2 separate regions of the Homo sapiens genome follow, and region 1 is linked to region 2. Evidence: fine-mapped expression QTL. A gene starts in region 2. The other region holds a variant in brackets. All regions are shown on one strand. Distances are from middle to middle. Region 1 has its middle 31 kb from the start of CD14. Region 2 holds the start of CD14 (CD14 molecule).

Evidence for each region.
Region 1: its variant is fine-mapped to the expression of CD14 in whole blood (INTERVAL, PIP above 0.99).

The regions. Positions count from the first base shown.
Region 1 is chr5:140,597,521-140,606,474 of GRCh38, reverse strand. It overlaps a transcript of TMCO6 not described here. Among named protein-coding and RNA genes, the nearest start is that of CD14, 31 kb to the left of the region's middle. The variant G/C (reference allele first, on the strand shown) is at 5,236.
Region 2 is chr5:140,628,248-140,637,201 of GRCh38, reverse strand. It overlaps CD14 (CD14 molecule), which reads left to right and starts at 4,027. Exons shown (of 2, transcript NM_000591.4): 1 at 4,027-4,133; 2 at 4,222-5,470. The coding sequence starts at 4,131. The coding sequence ends at 5,346. It also overlaps a transcript of TMCO6 not described here. RefSeq lists enhancers at 4,383-4,882, 5,095-5,154, 4,883-5,384.

The DNA of each region.
Region 1 (8,954 bases), 31 kb after region 2:
AAATCGGTAAAACCAAGAGTTGGTTCTTTTAAAAGATCAACAAAATTGACAAACCTTTAGTCTGAGAAAAAAAAGAAAGTACAAATAACTAAAATCAGAAATGAAAGTACCAGCCTGGGCAACATAGACAGACCCCATCTCTACAATTTTTTTGTTTATTTAGCCAGGCCTGGTGGCACACATCTGTGGTCCTAACTACTTGGGAGGCTAAGGCAGGAGGAGTGCTTGAGCCCAGGAGTTCAAGGCCGCACACCACTGCACTCCAGCCTGGGTGACAGAATGAGACCCTGGAAAAAAAAAAAAGAGGAAAGAAAGAGAGAGGGAGGAAGGAAGGAAGGAAGGGGAAAAGGAAAAGGAAAGGAAAGGGAAGGAAAAGAAGGGGGGGAAGGGGGAGGGAGGGAGGGAAGGAAGAAGGAAGGTTAATTAAAGTGGAACATTACTACTGACCTTACAGAAATTAAAACGATTGAAAGAAAATATTTTGAACACGATATGCCAACAAATTAGGTAATCTAGATGAAATGGACAAATTCCTAGGACACACTTATTGCCAAAACTGCCTCAACAACATATTTATAACAAGAGATTGAATCAGTAACCAAAAATCTCACAACAAAAAAAAGTTCAAGACCAGATAGCTTCACTGGTGAATTCTACCAAATATTAAAAAGACTTAATGCCAATCTTACTTAAACTCTTTCAAAAAACAGAAAAGGAGGAAACATCTTCTTTCTTTGTGTGTGTGTGTGTGTGTGTGTGTGTGTGTGTGTGTGTGTGTGTGTTTTGTTTTTTTTTGAGACAGAGTCTCGCTCTGTAACCCAGGCTGGAGTGCAACGACGAGATCTCAGCTCACTGCAACCTCTGCCTCCTGGATGCAAGCGATTCTCCTGCCTCAGCCTCCCAAGTAGCTGGGATTACAGGCACCCACCACCATGCCCAGCTAATTTTTGTATTTTTAGTAGAAATGGGGTTTCACTGTGTTGGTCAGGCTGGTCTCGAACTCCTGACCTCAGGTGATGCACCCGCCTCAGCCTCCCAAAGCACTAGGATTACAGGCGTGAACCACCACACCTGGCCTAAAGATGCCACTTTTACCACTTATATTTACTACCGTACCAGAAGTTTTAGCCAGAGAAACTAGGCAAGAAAAATAAATAAATAAAGGCATCCAATTTGGAAAGGAAGAAGTAAAATTGTATTTGCATATGATATGATTCTATAAATAGAAAGTCTCATAGAATTCACAAAAAAACTATTGGGGATAATAAATTAAGCAGTTTCAGACTACAAGATCAACACACAAAAATTAGTTGTTTCTATGCAATAGCAATTTAAAATCCAGAAAGGAAATTAAGAGAATAATTTCATTTACATGTTTTCAAAAAGAATAAAATTCCTTGGAATACAATTACCAAAGAGGTTAAAACCTTATAAAATGAAAACTAGAAAACATTGCTGAAATAAATTAAAGAAGACCTAAATAAATGGAAAGACATCCCTTCAATGTTTATGCATTGGAAGACTTAATATTGACACAGAACAACTGTATAGGATTAGAGCCTGGAAATAACCCAAACATCTATAACCAACTGATTTTTGATAATGAAGCCAAGATTATTCAATGGAAAAAAGAAATCTCTTCAAAAATAATGCTGAGAAAACTGGGTAGCTAATATGCAAAAAAAAAAAAAAAAGAGAAATGACACTAGACCATTACCTCTCTCCATATACAAAAATTAACTCAAAATAGATTAACAACTTAAATAACAGAACTAAAGCTATGAAACTGTTAGAAGAAAACCTAGGGATTAATCTTCATGACCTCTGATTTGGCAATGAATTCTTAGATGTGACACCAAAAGCATGAGCAACAAAAAAAAGTGATAAATTGGACTTCATAGAGATTAAAAACTTTGGTGCATCAAAGGACACTATCAAGAAAGTGAAAAGACAGCCTTTGAATAGGAGAAAATTATGAAAATTATATATCTGATAAGGGTCTAGTATGCAGTATATATAAAGAACTTTTACAACTCAACAACAACAAAGACAATCCAATTTTATTTTTTATTTATTTTTTTGAGACAGAATCTCACTGTGTTGCCCAGTCTGGAGTGCAGTGGGATGATCACAGCTCACTGCAGCCTCTACCTCCTGGGCTCAAGCAATTCTCCTGCCTCAGCCTCCTGAGTGCTGTTACTACAGGAGCACACTACCACACCCAGCTAATTGTTTTGATTTTTAGTAGAGACAAGGTGTAGCTATGTTGCCCAGGCTGGTCTCAATCCAGTTTTTAATAAGGCAAGCAACTTGAATGGCTATTTCTCCACATAGGCTATACAAATGGCTAACAAGCATATGAAAAGATGTTCAACATCATTGATCATAAAGGGAACGCAAATTAAAGGCACAATGAGATATCACTACACACTCACCATACTGCTATAATGATAAATTTTTTAAATAAAATAACAAGTGTTGGTGAGGATGTGGAAAAACAGGAACTCTCATACCTTGCTATTGGGAAAGTAAAATGGTGCAGCTACTCTGGAAACAGCTAGCAGTTCCTCAAAAAGTTAAACATATAATTACCATATGACCCATCAATTCTACTCCTTAGTATATACTCAAGAGAAATGAAAACATATATCTACACAGAAACTTGCACACAAATGTTTATAGCAGCAGTATTCATAATAACCGAATGGTGAAAATAACCCAAATGCTCATCAACAGATGATGGATAAATAAATTGTGATATGAACATTTAATGGAATATTATACAGCAAAAAAAAACCCCAAATATTGATACATGCCACAACTTGGATGAACTTTAAACTAATGCTAAGTAAAAGAAGTCAGACACTGGCCAGGCACAGTGGCTCACACTTGTGATCCCAGCACTTTCGGAGGCCGAGGCGGGCAGATCACCTGAGGTCAGGAGTTTGAGACCAACCTGGCCAACATGGTGTAATCCTGTTTCTACTAAAAATACAAAAATTAGCTGAGTGTGGTGACGAGCACCTGTAATCTCAGCTACTTGGAAGGCTGAGGCAGGAAAAGCGCTTGAACCTGGGAGGTGCAGGTTGCAGTGAGCCAAGATCACGTCACTGCACTCCAGCCTGGGCAATGGAGTGAAACTCTGCTTCAAAAATAAAATAAAATAAAATAAAATAATAAAATAAAATAAGCCAAACACTGAAAGTCACATGTTGTTATTGTTTGCCTTCTTTTATATAATATATCCAGAATAGGCAAATTCATAAAGACAGAAAACTGCTTAGTGGTCACCTGGGGAGGGGAGAGAGAGGAATGGGAAGTGATTACTTAATGGGTATGGCATGTGTTTTGGGCATGATGGAAAAGTTTTGAAACTAGAAAGAAGTGATGGTTGCACAACAGTGCGAATACACTAAATACCACTGAATCATACACTTTTTTTTTTTTGAGACAGAATTTCACTCTTGTTTCCCAGGCTGGAGTGCAGCGGCACTATCTCGGCTCACCCTGGCTAATTTTTGTATTATTAGTAGAGACGGGGTTTCACCATGTGGCCAGGCTAGTCTCAAACTCCTGACCTCAGGTGATCCGCCCACCTTGGCCTCCCAAAGTGCTGGGATTACAGGCGTGAGCCACCACGCATGGCCATTTTTCTTTTCTTTTTTCCTTTCCTTTTTTTTTGTGTGTGTGTGTTTGTGTGTGTGTGTGAGAGAGACAGAGTTTTGCTCTATGGCCAAGGCTGGAGTGCAGTGGCATGATGTTGGCTCACCGTAACCTCCACCTCCCAGGTTCAAGCGATTCTCCTGCCTCAGCCTCCCAAGTAGCTGGGATTATAGGTGTGTGCCACCACGCCTGGCTAATTTTTTGTATTTTTGTAGAGATGGGGTTTGGCTATGTTGGTTAGGCTGGTCTCAAACTCCTGACCTCAAGTGATCCACGTGCCTCAGCCTCTGAAAAGTGCTGGGATTACAGGTGTGAGCCACCACTCCCAGCCACACTTTAAAATGACTAATTATATGTAACATGAATTTCACCTCAATTAAGAAATTCAAAAAGACGAAATGAAACTGTAAACAGTTACAAACTGCTCTAAGTACTATAAGTGGGATGTGTAGGGCGGTGTTGAGGCCTAGCAAATGCCTGGCTCTGACTGGACAGCAGTGAGGTCATCACAGAGGTGACACTGGAGCTGGGTTTTGAGGGAGATGTAGGAATTCGGGAGATTGCAAGTGTAGGAAGTGAGAGAAAAGAGGTTCTTTTTTAAAAAGGAAGAGAAGGAACCATGCAGAGGGAACAGAATAGGCAAAGCCTTGGAGGTGTGAGTAAGCAATTCTCATACTGAGTACTAGAAAAGTTGGAGACCTAGTGTATATGGAGAATAGAAATAGTAGGAAAGGAAGGCAGAAGCCACATGATGAGGGGTTTGGCAGTCCATGTTGATGCCTTTGGACAAGGAATTAAGCAGGATTTATTTCTTGGGGGAACAGCATGGGCAACATCTTGTTGCCTAAATTAAACTTTCTATATGTTGACCATATTTTATTGTATTCGCTTAAAAATATTCATGAATATACTGCTTAGTATGTGCCAGGCACTGTCCTAAAGCTTATTATTAACTCACTTAATCTCATCAACAGTTGTTCTCAAAGTCTAGACTCCACTGGAATCTCCTAGAAGTCTTAAAACACAGAAACCAGAGTTTCTGATTCAACAGGTATGGTGACGCCTGAAATCTGCCTTTTAATTCAATTATCAGGAGATGCTGAGACTGCTGGCACAGGGAATACACTTTGAGAAACACTGCTTTACGTCATCCTTATAAGGAAGGGAGCATTATATTACCATAGTTCTGAGATTGTGTCACTGCACCCCAGCCTGGGTGACAGAACGAGACTCTGTCTCAAAAAAATAAATGGAATAAGGCTGACGTGAATGGGGTCAAAACAACGGTCTTAGAGCAGTACTCTGAGAGGTTGAGGTGGACCAAAGGGAGCCCCTGCTGTTGTCCCAACATGAAGGGCCCTGGACAAATATGATTTATCCAACCTTGTTTGGAGGAATTCAAGAAACCTTACCTTGAATCACCTGGGGCAATAGTCCCATAACCAAATCAGTATAAGGATTGATGACAAATGGGTCAGCTTCCTTTGGTTCACTACCACCACCACCCCATACCCCCACAGCCATTGCAGACCCAAGGCCTTATGCACATCAGTGAGAAAAACTGTCAGGGTG[G/C]AAAAGGGACATTTCTAGGACTCCTTAACATAGGAGCCACATACACTGTAGTCCCCTGCTAGTGAGCCCTCACTAAGACCACAATTAGAACAAAAGTGTATAGAAATCAAGGGTGGATGGGATTAAGGGATAAAAATAGAGTGTTTAGATGGGATTTATGTGAAGGGGTTGTAGCTCCTATACACGGATGTTTTAAGAGAATGAATATTATGTCTTAATGGGGCACACTTTCCCTACCTAGTATTTATAAAATGAAAATCTGTTGGTGAAGTCCTAGTGGAAGCTTCAGTCAGGGATGCAAGGGTTGATGAAACTAAAGTGACAAAAGTTTGGATTAAAATTCGTATGTTTGAACAGTTTGTATGTGTGAATAGCATCTCTTTTCGTTGAATGTAGTATGGGGATATTGTATCTGACCGTGGAACATTTCCCCTCCCTAGTATTATAAACAGAAGGCACATAAATTCACCCTTTGGGGCCAGGCCCACTGGTTCACACCTGTAATCCCAGCACTTTTGAGAGGCTGAGGCAGGTGGATCATGAGGTCAGGAGCTTGAGACCAGGCTGGCCAAAATGACGAAACCCTGTCTCTACTAAAAATACAAAAATTATCCGGGCACAGTGGCGGGTGCCTGTAACCCTGCTACTCAGGAGGCTGAGGCAGGAGAATCACTTGAACTCGGGAGGCGAAGGTTGCAGTGAGCCGAGATCGCGCCACTGTACTCCAGCCTGAGTGACAGAGCAAGACTCTGTCTCAAAAAAAAAAAAAACAAAACAAATTCACCCTATGGGTAATATTAATTGGATGTGCTAAAATGGGAACAAATAAGATGGCCCAAGTCACACTGATTGTTAATTTCAAACAGTATAAAATAGAAGCTGAAGTGCCAGTAGGGAAAATTCTCTGTACAATAGCCCTGTGTGAAGTATAGGCTGGAGCTTATGGCAAAAGTCTGTGAGTGCCACCCAGCAATAACTGCTGGGACTTTGGACCAGAGAATTCCCATTTGCAGGGAAATTACTTATTTCTTATCAGACATTAAGTAAAACTTCCACTATAACTGAAAGATATAAAATAATCTTAAACATAAAATACCCATAACATTTTGGATGATGTTGGAGAAACCATTCAATGGGGAGAGAAGTGCCTGGAAGAGCTCCATAACAAAATGGAAGTTGTTTCTGATGGAACATACCACTGGGGGAATGCCAGGAGATACCATATTTCCAAGCAGATAGACTTTTTCCCCTAGAATTGACTTTTGAACCACCTGAGGAGCTGCCAGATTTTATTTTATTTTATTTTATTTTATTTTATTTTATATTTTATTTGAGATGGAGCCTTGCTCTGTCACCCAGGCTGGAGTGCAGTGTTGCGATCTTGGCTCACTGCTCACTGTAACCTCCGCCTCCCAGGTTCCAGCGATTCTCCTGCCTCAGCCTCCCGACTAGCTGGGATTACAGGTGTGCACCACCATGCCCAGCTAATTTTTATATTTTTAGTAGAGATGGGGTTTCCCCATGTTGACCAGGTTGGTCTCAAACTCCTGACCTCAGGTGATCCGCCCTCTTCGGCCTCCCAAAGTGCTGGGATTATAGGCGTGAGCCACAGCACCTGGCTGGAGCTGTCAGATTCTACTGCTACCTGGAGAGTGTCCTATAAACAGCAAAGAGCTTCTTGGTTTATAATCGCAGTTCCAAGGTGAATGTGCAGCATCTTGTTTGGAAGGCTAAGAAGGTAAAAACAACTTACCTTATAGGCTATTGCATTCTGTTTGCCACTACATTTGGGTTTTTACTGATTCATGGGTGGTGCATACTGACGTGATCATATGGTCAGGCTGAAGAGCAATAGAAAACTGCCCTCTTAAAGGGATCCCCTAAGAAAATCACTATGGAAATTTGAGGGATAGATTAAAGTAGGACATATCAATGCCCAATAGAAGAATCACTTTCCTGGATTGGAAGGTGATTGGCACCAGTGAGTGAATTTCCCAGTGTGCTCACTTGAGGTGGCCACCTGGGTCCATGGAATGAGTGGACCTAAGAATACTGTGGCAATGTAGAGATCTAGACATATTCCTCTTGCACCCTTTGAAGCACAAAATGCCAACAAGAACTGTTTTGTCTGCCAGCAAGAGAGACAGAGAATGCAGGTGGCCCTGGGGCACATTCCCCCGTTGGAAGGCCTCACACATAGCTGGTAGATAGATTACATTGAACAAATGCTGGCAGCCCTGGGGGCTACAAATGGGGTCTGACAGGAATAGACACTTACTTTGGTTTTTTGGTTTTTTTGTTTTTGAGATGGAGTCTTGGTCTGTCACCCAGGCTGGAGTGCAGTGGTGTGATCTCCGCTCACTGCTACCTCCTCCTCCTGGGTTCAAGTGATTCTCCTGTCTCAGCCTCCCGAGTAGCTGGGATTACAGTCGCCTGCCACCACACCTGACTAATTCTTTTGTAGTTTTAATAGAGACTGGGTTTCACCATGTTGACCAGGCTGGTCTCAAAATTTGACCTCAGGTGATCCATCTGCCTTGGCCTCCCAAAGTGCTGGGATTACGGGCGTAAGCCACTGCACCCGGCCAGGAATAGACACTTACTTTGGACTGGGCTTTGCACACCTAGTGGTAGATACGAATGCTGAAAATACTATTAAATTATTGGAACAAAAGATACTGTACTAATTTGGACCACCAAGTTACATTTCTTCAAACCAAGAGTCACACTTTACAGCCCATGATGTCCAACAGTGGACAAAGAGATATCACATCAAACAGACATACCACGTTGCATTGTCATCCTCAGAGTAGCAGTTTAATAGGGAATTGGAATGAGCACTTGAAACATTCATTGTCTAAAATGAGGTGAGTGAGGGTGCAGTGGCTCATGCCTATAATCCCAGCACTTTGGGAGGACGAGGCGGGAGGATCACTTTAGCGCAAGAGTTCAAAGCTGCAGTGAGATATCATGCCACTGCACTCCAGCCTGGGCAACAAAACAAGAACCTGTCTCTAAAAAAAAAAAACCAAATAAAATAAGAAAATAAAATTTAAAAATCAAGTAAAATGGGGGAGGGGATAAAGTTATGAAGCACTTGTTTAAATGTTTTCATGAGGGTATGCTCACATGCACCATGAGGGGGCCAAGGGAGAATCCCCATTGGAGAGATTCCTCCATTTTTCTAGGAAAATCTAGGGGAGAGGGGTTGAGGGAGGGTGTTGGTATGACTATATGATTCTTGCCCACATCACCTCAACTTTCTTTTTTGCCATCTGATGCAGAGGTTCCAGGACTAGAGATACATCTGCAGGTGCCAGAAGCATAGATAATTCCTAGGCAAGACATTGTAACTATACCTTTAAATCTTTATTTCAGCATTTCTAAGGACCCTATAGGTTAAGTTGTGCCCTCAACCCATCTGGCAAAATTTGAGTTGACAGTAAATGCTGCTGTATCATCCAGTGGCTAAGATAGTCCATTAGTCCTGTAGCTATATAGCCCTAATCTATATAAATTGGAGTGGACTGAAGGGGAGGCACTTGTTAAACTACTATTGTTGCCAGCAATCTGGACTAGCACAGTGGCCTCTCCTAATGTCCCTTCCAAAGGTAGAAAAGTTTGGGTATAAATGAGAGAATGAAGAATAATAGCTGAGGGTATGGAATGAATAACCCAATTAGGGAAATCCAATATTATGCTAACACTTTGAAAGAGAC
Region 2 (8,954 bases):
CCTTCTCTTTGTCAACAAGCCCTGTTCTTTTTCTCCTCCACCCTACTCCCACTCTTGGGGGAGGCTCTCGCACAAGCTGTTTTCTCTGCCTGCATCCTTCCCTTTTCTTTCTACCAGCATCCTTCCCTCAACACCATTCTCAACATGTCAAGTCCAGTGTCACCTACTCAGAACCATTGTACCAATGACCCAGCTTCTTCACAACCCTTTTCACAGCTATCATTAAGTTATAGTGTAATTATTTGATGTTGTCTCCTCCCAGACCCCCTTGGCAGCTCCAGAAGATTAGGGTCCCGGTGGCACCTAAGAATTTTTACAGGAAACCTCTAATTTTTAAAAAGCCATATAACTTAGGCAAAGGTTCAATTAAGTACAAATCTAGGAAAAAGGTTATTCTTAAAACCAATTTCTTTCCCTTGAACTTAATTCTACCCCTTGGAGTTAATCAATGAAGTCTGCAATCTCTTCCACAAAACAGCATGTTAAAATATCTACAGGCCATCATTCCATCCTCCATATCTTCTCTCCCAGTATCCATCCAGCCCCTGGAGAGCCATTTACTGAGTACCTGCTGTGCACCATGCTCTGGCCAGGGATAGGGCCTGGATCTTGAGCCCTTCCTCATGCAACTGTCTGGCTTCTTTTTTTAATTTTTTAATTAAAAAAAATTTATTTTCTTATTTCCCCAAGAAAAACTTTTTTATTTTTATTTTATTTATTTATTTTTTTTTTTGAGCCAGGGTCTTGCTCGGTTGCCCACGCTGCAGTGCAGTAGTGCAATCATGGCTTATCACAGCCTGGAACTCAGCCTTAAATGATCCTTTCAGCTTGGCCTCCCAAAGTGCTAGAATTACTGGCATGAGCCACTGCACCTAACCCAGGCTAGCTTCTAAGACCCACACTTGGCCCAGCAAGGTGGCTCATGCCTATAATCCCAGCACTTTGGGAGATGGAGGCAGGTGGATCACCTGAGGTCAGGAGTTCGAGACCAGCATGACCAACATGGTGAAACCCCGTCTCTACTAAAAATGCAAAATTAACCAGGTGTGGTGGCACGTGCTTGTAATCCCAGCTACTCAGGAGACTGAGGCAGGAGACTCGCTTGAACCCAGGAGGTGGAGGTTGCGATGAGCCAAGATTGCATCATTGCACTCCAGCCTGGGCAACAAGAGTGAAACTCCATCTAAAACAACAACAATAACAACAACAACAAAACCCACATGTGCTCCAGGTGGGGAAGATGAAAAAAGTTCCCAGCCAAAAGCTATATTCTGCCCAGTGTCTGCTCAGACAGCTACAGCTGCCCAAATTGCCTTTCTGTATCTACCTGTCTAGCAACACTGTTAACCCTGTAAGAACCAGCCCCATGTCCTGTCTTGTACAGGGCTGGCTGTTCCTTTCTCCAGACCATGTTCCTCCCCTCCACCCCTCTCCCCCAACAACACAAGCCTTTGGTTTCTCTTCTTTTAAGAGCCCTCTGCACTATGGACGGAAGTTCTGGGTTCATGTTTGCTCTACCCACCTCCTGGAGCACTTCAGGGACTTGTCTTTGTCATGTCTGTGTCCCAGGGCTTTCTACCAACCCTAGTACTCGGTAGACAAATGATAGACATTTGTTGAATCAAGCTGTGAGTTGGAGATCTTTGCAGAACCATCACTGCCCCTCTTAACTTGGAACTCCCCACCCAGAGTGCCTCCCCTAAGATGATGAGGTGTCAGACTTCAGTGGCCTGAGTTCTCTGAAAGCAGAGACTCTGAGAAAGAAGACTAGTCATCAAGACCACACTAAAAAGATGTGTTTCTGTGCCAAAGACTTTACTCACAAACAGGTAATACTATCATCTCCATTTTACAGAAGGGAGGCCCAAGTCTCATAACCTCAGTCGTAAAGCTGGGATTCCAAGACTGGCTATCTGACTTTGAGTCAGATATAATCATATCTTGGTCCTCAGGGATATCACAGAGGCCTGGCATGGCACCAGGGCATGGCCCAGTGCATTGGGGTATGCCCAACAGGACCCGCAGGGGGCAGTGATGAGCCTTCTTGTTTGGATTGGGGACAAATCTGCAGCTACTTCTTTCTCAATTAAAGAGGAAGTGGGAATTTAAAAAAGACTTTCTGCCGGGCACGGTGGCTCATGCCTGTAATCCCAGCACTTTGGGAGGCCGAGGCAGGTGAATCACCTGAGGTCGGGAGTTCGAGACCAGCCTGACCAACATGGAGAAACCCCATCTCTACTAAAAATACAAAATTAGCCGGGTGTAGTGGCACATGCCTGTAATCCCAGCCGCTCGGGAAGCTGAGGCAGGAGAATTGCTGGAACCTGGGAGGCGGAGATTGCAGTGAGCTGAGATCGCGCCCAGCCTGGGCAACAAGAACAAAACTCCGTCTCAAATAAATAAATAAAAGTAAAAAAGACTTTCAGGCCGGGTGTGGTGGCTCTCGCCTGTAATCCCAGCACTTTGAGAGGCCAAGGCGGGCGGATCACCTGAGGTCAGGAGTGCCTGGTCAACATAGTGAAACTCTGTCTCTACTAAAACTACAAAAATTAGCCGGGCATGGTGGTGGGCTCCTGTAATCCCAGCTACTCAGGAATCTGAGGCAAGAGAATTGCTTGAACTTGGGAGGCGGAGGTTGCAGTGAGCCAAGATCACGCCACTGCACTCCAGCCTGGGCAACAGAGCCAAACTCAGTCTCAAAAAAAAAAAAAAAAAAAAAGACTTTCATATAGTTCTTTCCCCAGAGGTCTAGGGATGTGGACCTGTGAGGGCTGTTGTAAATGCGTAGCTCCTTATTCTCTGGGACATTTGTTGTTTTTTTGTTTTGTTTTGTTTGCTGTTTTTTTCATTTTGTTTTGTTTTCTGTTTTTGTCTGTTTTTTGCGAAACTGGTGAGTTACTAATTAATCCTCATTCAACATAGTCCCATCCCTTCCTTCCTAGGGCACAGAGATTGTACTGAGGGGAGGGCAGGAGAGAGCAACGTGCAAGTGGGAAAACTGATTCAAAATACCTTGCTTCACAATTTCAGGACAGAAAATGGATAGTGTAAGTGACCCAGAGACTTGGCCAATGTGTCTCTGTTAAATACATCCACTTTTAAGAAAGTTAGTACTGCCAGGCACAGTGGCTCACGCCTGTAATCCCAGCACTTTGGGAGGCCGAGGCGGGTGGATCACAAGGTCAGGAGTTCAAGACCAGCCTGGCCAAGATGATGAAAACCTGTCTCTACTAAAAAATACAAAAATTAGCTGGGTGTGGTGGTGGGCACTTGTAATCCCAGCTACTCGGGAGGCTGAGGCAGAGAATTGCTTGAACCCAGGAGGCGGAGGTTGCAGTGAGCCGAGATCATGGCACTCTACTCCAGCCTGAGCAACAGAGCAAGACTCTATCTCAAAAAAAAAAAAAAAAAAGAAAGAAAGTTATTACTTAATCAAAGGAGCAAGGAAAAAAAAAGGAAGGGGGAATTTTTCTTTAGACCAACTTCCTTTTCTTGAACCTAATTCTACCCCCCTTGGTGCCAACAGATGAGGTTCACAATCTCTTCCACAAAACATGCAGTTAAATATCTGAGGATATTCAGGGACTTGGATTTGGTGGCAGGAGATCAACATAAACCAAGACAAGGAAGAAGTCAAAGAAATGAATCAAGTAGATTCTCTGGGATATAAGGTAGGGGGATTGGGGGGTTGGATAGTGCAGAGTATGGTACTGGCCTAAGGCACTGAGGATCATCCTTTTCCCACACCCACCAGAGAAGGCTTAGGCTCCCGAGTCAACAGGGCATTCACCGCCTGGGGCGCCTGAGTCATCAGGACACTGCCAGGAGACACAGAACCCTAGATGCCCTGCAGAATCCTTCCTGTTACGGTCCCCCTCCCTGAAACATCCTTCATTGCAATATTTCCAGGAAAGGAAGGGGGCTGGCTCGGAGGAAGAGAGGTGGGGAGGTGATCAGGGTTCACAGAGGAGGGAACTGAATGACATCCCAGGATTACATAAACTGTCAGAGGCAGCCGAAGAGTTCACAAGTGTGAAGCCTGGAAGCCGGCGGGTGCCGCTGTGTAGGAAAGAAGCTAAAGCACTTCCAGAGCCTGTCCGGAGCTCAGAGGTTCGGAAGACTTATCGACCATGGTGAGTGTAGGGTCTTGGGGTCGAACGCGTGCCACTCGGGAGCCACAGGGGTTGGATGGGGCCTCCTAGACCTCTGCTCTCTCCCCAGGAGCGCGCGTCCTGCTTGTTGCTGCTGCTGCTGCCGCTGGTGCACGTCTCTGCGACCACGCCAGAACCTTGTGAGCTGGACGATGAAGATTTCCGCTGCGTCTGCAACTTCTCCGAACCTCAGCCCGACTGGTCCGAAGCCTTCCAGTGTGTGTCTGCAGTAGAGGTGGAGATCCATGCCGGCGGTCTCAACCTAGAGCCGTTTCTAAAGCGCGTCGATGCGGACGCCGACCCGCGGCAGTATGCTGACACGGTCAAGGCTCTCCGCGTGCGGCGGCTCACAGTGGGAGCCGCACAGGTTCCTGCTCAGCTACTGGTAGGCGCCCTGCGTGTGCTAGCGTACTCCCGCCTCAAGGAACTGACGCTCGAGGACCTAAAGATAACCGGCACCATGCCTCCGCTGCCTCTGGAAGCCACAGGACTTGCACTTTCCAGCTTGCGCCTACGCAACGTGTCGTGGGCGACAGGGCGTTCTTGGCTCGCCGAGCTGCAGCAGTGGCTCAAGCCAGGCCTCAAGGTACTGAGCATTGCCCAAGCACACTCGCCTGCCTTTTCCTGCGAACAGGTTCGCGCCTTCCCGGCCCTTACCAGCCTAGACCTGTCTGACAATCCTGGACTGGGCGAACGCGGACTGATGGCGGCTCTCTGTCCCCACAAGTTCCCGGCCATCCAGAATCTAGCGCTGCGCAACACAGGAATGGAGACGCCCACAGGCGTGTGCGCCGCACTGGCGGCGGCAGGTGTGCAGCCCCACAGCCTAGACCTCAGCCACAACTCGCTGCGCGCCACCGTAAACCCTAGCGCTCCGAGATGCATGTGGTCCAGCGCCCTGAACTCCCTCAATCTGTCGTTCGCTGGGCTGGAACAGGTGCCTAAAGGACTGCCAGCCAAGCTCAGAGTGCTCGATCTCAGCTGCAACAGACTGAACAGGGCGCCGCAGCCTGACGAGCTGCCCGAGGTGGATAACCTGACACTGGACGGGAATCCCTTCCTGGTCCCTGGAACTGCCCTCCCCCACGAGGGCTCAATGAACTCCGGCGTGGTCCCAGCCTGTGCACGTTCGACCCTGTCGGTGGGGGTGTCGGGAACCCTGGTGCTGCTCCAAGGGGCCCGGGGCTTTGCCTAAGATCCAAGACAGAATAATGAATGGACTCAAACTGCCTTGGCTTCAGGGGAGTCCCGTCAGGACGTTGAGGACTTTTCGACCAATTCAACCCTTTGCCCCACCTTTATTAAAATCTTAAACAACGGGTCCGTGTCATTCATTTAACAGACCTTTATTGGATGTCTGCTATGTGCTGGGCACAGTGCTGGATGGGGAATTCATCATACTTAGGCTTTCTTCATCCTAACTCCCTAAGAAACCCTATCTGTCCTCCTCAAGAAAAGAACTGCGGGGATAGAAGGAGCCAGGAAAGGACTCCTGGCTAGGGCTGCATGGGAGAAACAATGAGTGTGCAGTCAGGGCTTTCTGAGCAGATTATTGGCATCTGGATTAAAAGGTATTTGCATGATATTTGGAAGATACAAAATATTTCCTCTCCTATGCACTTCCCAAGAGCCAGCTGCTCCCTTTCAAAGGTAATAAAACCCACAGCCATTTGCTTATTTCCTTATTCTTTCTCTCTCTCACACACACACACACTCACACACCCTCCCTCTCCCTCTCTGTCTGTCTCCCTTACCACTCAAGGAAGAGGGACAGCCTCCTATCCTGCACAAGCTCTGAGTTTCATAATATTAGGGTTCCTCTCTTGTAAAACCTCTCTTCACCCGGAGGCTTTCACTGTGTCACTCCCCGACATAATGGGAAATTTGGGCCTAGGGAACTGACGCAAGATACAGTCGGTCTCTGAATTAGAGATCCTGTGTTCTGTTAGAACACATATGCAGATAACCTTTTCAGGCTGACTGATTGGCAAATAGGAAAGCATCTCAGACTCTTCAAAACTTCAGAATAAACAGGATTTGTCCTCTAGTCCACATTAGCTCAGAGACCTACAGCATCAGCCATCAAGAGGTGCTGTTTCTTCTGAGCCCCTTCTTCATTTCAATGAGGAGGCAGCCACATCCATCAGAGAGCTAGATGCCTGCCTCACAGGGAGCATGGGAGAAAGGTGGGAGGAGGCATATAGGCCCAGCACCTGCCTCTGGCCAATGTCCAGAGCCACACAGATAGGAATAGGGAATGGAAATTAACATTGATAAGAGAGTTACAGACATTACCAGAACCAGACTCAAAATATGTCAGAAAACAGTTAAATTAGCTGGACACTCACTGGAATGTCCCCAAGGGGCCTTCAACCAGCCAGTTGAGAGATTTCTAGTATCAGAGAATTAATCATCTCAAGGCAGTTTTTTTCTTCCCTTGAATAGCTCTGATCACACTTCATCAAATGGTTACAGAACCACATTTCACCTCAGGCCTTGTGCTAAAGCCTGAAATACAAAGATGAATCAGAAACATCCATGCCCTTAGGGAATTCCAATCCAGTGGGGGTCGGGGGAACACATAAAAGATAGTTTTTTATGTGTGAGAAATAGCTGTGAGAATATATATAAATTTCTGTTGGTTAAGCCACCAGTCTATGGTATTTTATTACGGTAGCCTGAGCTGACTAAGGCAGTAGTGGTGATGTAACATATCTGATTGCAAAAAAAAAAATTTTTTTTAAAGAGTAATATATCTGGGCCAGGTGTGGTGGCTCATGCCTATAATCCCAGCACTTTGGGAGGCTGAGGTGGGCGGATCACGAGGTCAAGAGATCGAGTCCACCCTGGCTAACATGATGAAACCCTGTCTCTACTAAAAATACAAAAATTAGCCGGGTGTGGTGGCATGTGTCTGTAATCCCAGCTACTCAGGAGGCTGAGGCAGGAGAATTGCTCACTAGAACCTGGGAGGCAGAGGTTGCAGTGAGCCAAGATCACGCCACTGCACTCCAGCCTGAGCGAAAGAGTGAGACTCCGTCTCAAAAAAAAAAGGGAGCAGATATTGTTGAGGATTGATATGTTATACAGGTTGACTATCCTTTTTTTTTTTTTTTTGAGGCAGAGTTTCACTCTTGTTGCCCAGGCTGGAGTGCAATGGCGCAATCTCAGCTCACTGCAACCTCCACCTCCCAGGTTCAAGCAAATCTCCTGCCTCAGCCTCCCAAGTAGCTGGGATTATAGGCATGCACCACCACACCTGGCTAATTTTGTATTTTTCGTAGAGACAGGGTTTCTCCGTGTTGGTCAGGCTGGTCTTGAACACCCAACCTCAGGTGATCTGCCTGCCTCGGGCTCCCAAAGTGCTGGGATTGCAGGCATGAGCCACCACACCCAGCCAGGTTGACTATCCTTTATCCAAAATGCTCCAGACCAGAAGTTTTGGATTTTTTCAGATTTTGGAATATTTGCGTATATATAATGAGATAGATTTGGATGGGACCCAAGTCTGAATACAAAATTCATTTATGTTTCATATACACTTTAGATAATAGCCTGAAGATAACTTTATACAATATTTTTGTCATGATTCCCTAAACAATATAGTATAACAACTATTTACATAGCATTTACATTGTATTAGGAATTATAAGTAATCTAGAGATGATTTAAAGCATGTGGGAGATGTATGTAGGTTATGTGCAAATACTGCAACATTTTATTTATTTATTATTATTATTTTTTTTAGTTTTTTGGGTTTTGTTTGTTTTGTTTTGTTTTTTGAGACAGAGTCTCTCTCTGTCACCTAGGCTGGAGTGCAGTGGTTTGATCTCAGCTCACTGCAACTTCTGCATCTGGGGTTCAAGTGATGCTCCTGCCTCAGCCTTCTGAGTAGCTGGGATTACAGGCATGCACTACCACACCCTGCTAATTTTTGTATTTTTAGTAGAGACAGGGTTTCACCATGTTGGCCAGGCTAGTTGTGAATTCCTGACCTCAGGTAATCCACCTGCCTCTGCCTCCCAAAGTGCTGGGATTACAGGCATAAGCCACTGCACCCAACCTAAAGTTTTAACTGTTTGGATTGTAACCCATCACATATCCAGGATATGAATCATCCCTTTGTACAGTGTATCTACACTGTAGGCACTACTAGCTCGTTAGTAACTTAGGAGCTGTCTGGGTTGTCAGATCAACAGTTACCATATAGCAGTGCCTGTGTTCAGTAACCCTTATTTTACTTAATAATGGACCCCCAGCACAAGAATAGTGATGCCCACAATTCAGATATGCCAAGAAAAGCCATAAAATGGCTGGGCATGGTGGCTCATGCCTGTAATCTCAGCACTTTGGAAGGCCGAGGTGGGTGGCTCACTGGAGGTCTCCAGACTTCAAGACCAGCCTGGCCAACATGGTGAAACCTGTCTCTACTGCAAATACAAAAATTAGCCAGATGTGGTGGTGTGCTCCTGTAATCCCAGCTATTTGGGAGGCTGAGGCAGGAGAATCACTTGAACCTGGGAGGTAGAGGTTGCAGTGAGCTGAGATCTCACCACTACACTCTAGCCTGGGTGACAGAGTGAGACTCTGTCTCAAAAAAAAAAGAAAAGAAAAGAAAAGCCGTAAAGTGCATCTGTCAGAGGCATTCAAATCAGAGCAACTCCATCTTGAACAGGGGCTGGATAAAATGAGACTGAGACCTGCTGGGCCGCAATTTCAGGAGGTTAGGTATCTTAGTCACAAGTTTACATTTCAGGGAACAGAAACAGACCTAAGAAAGAGGGAAATATAGGACAAGTCAGA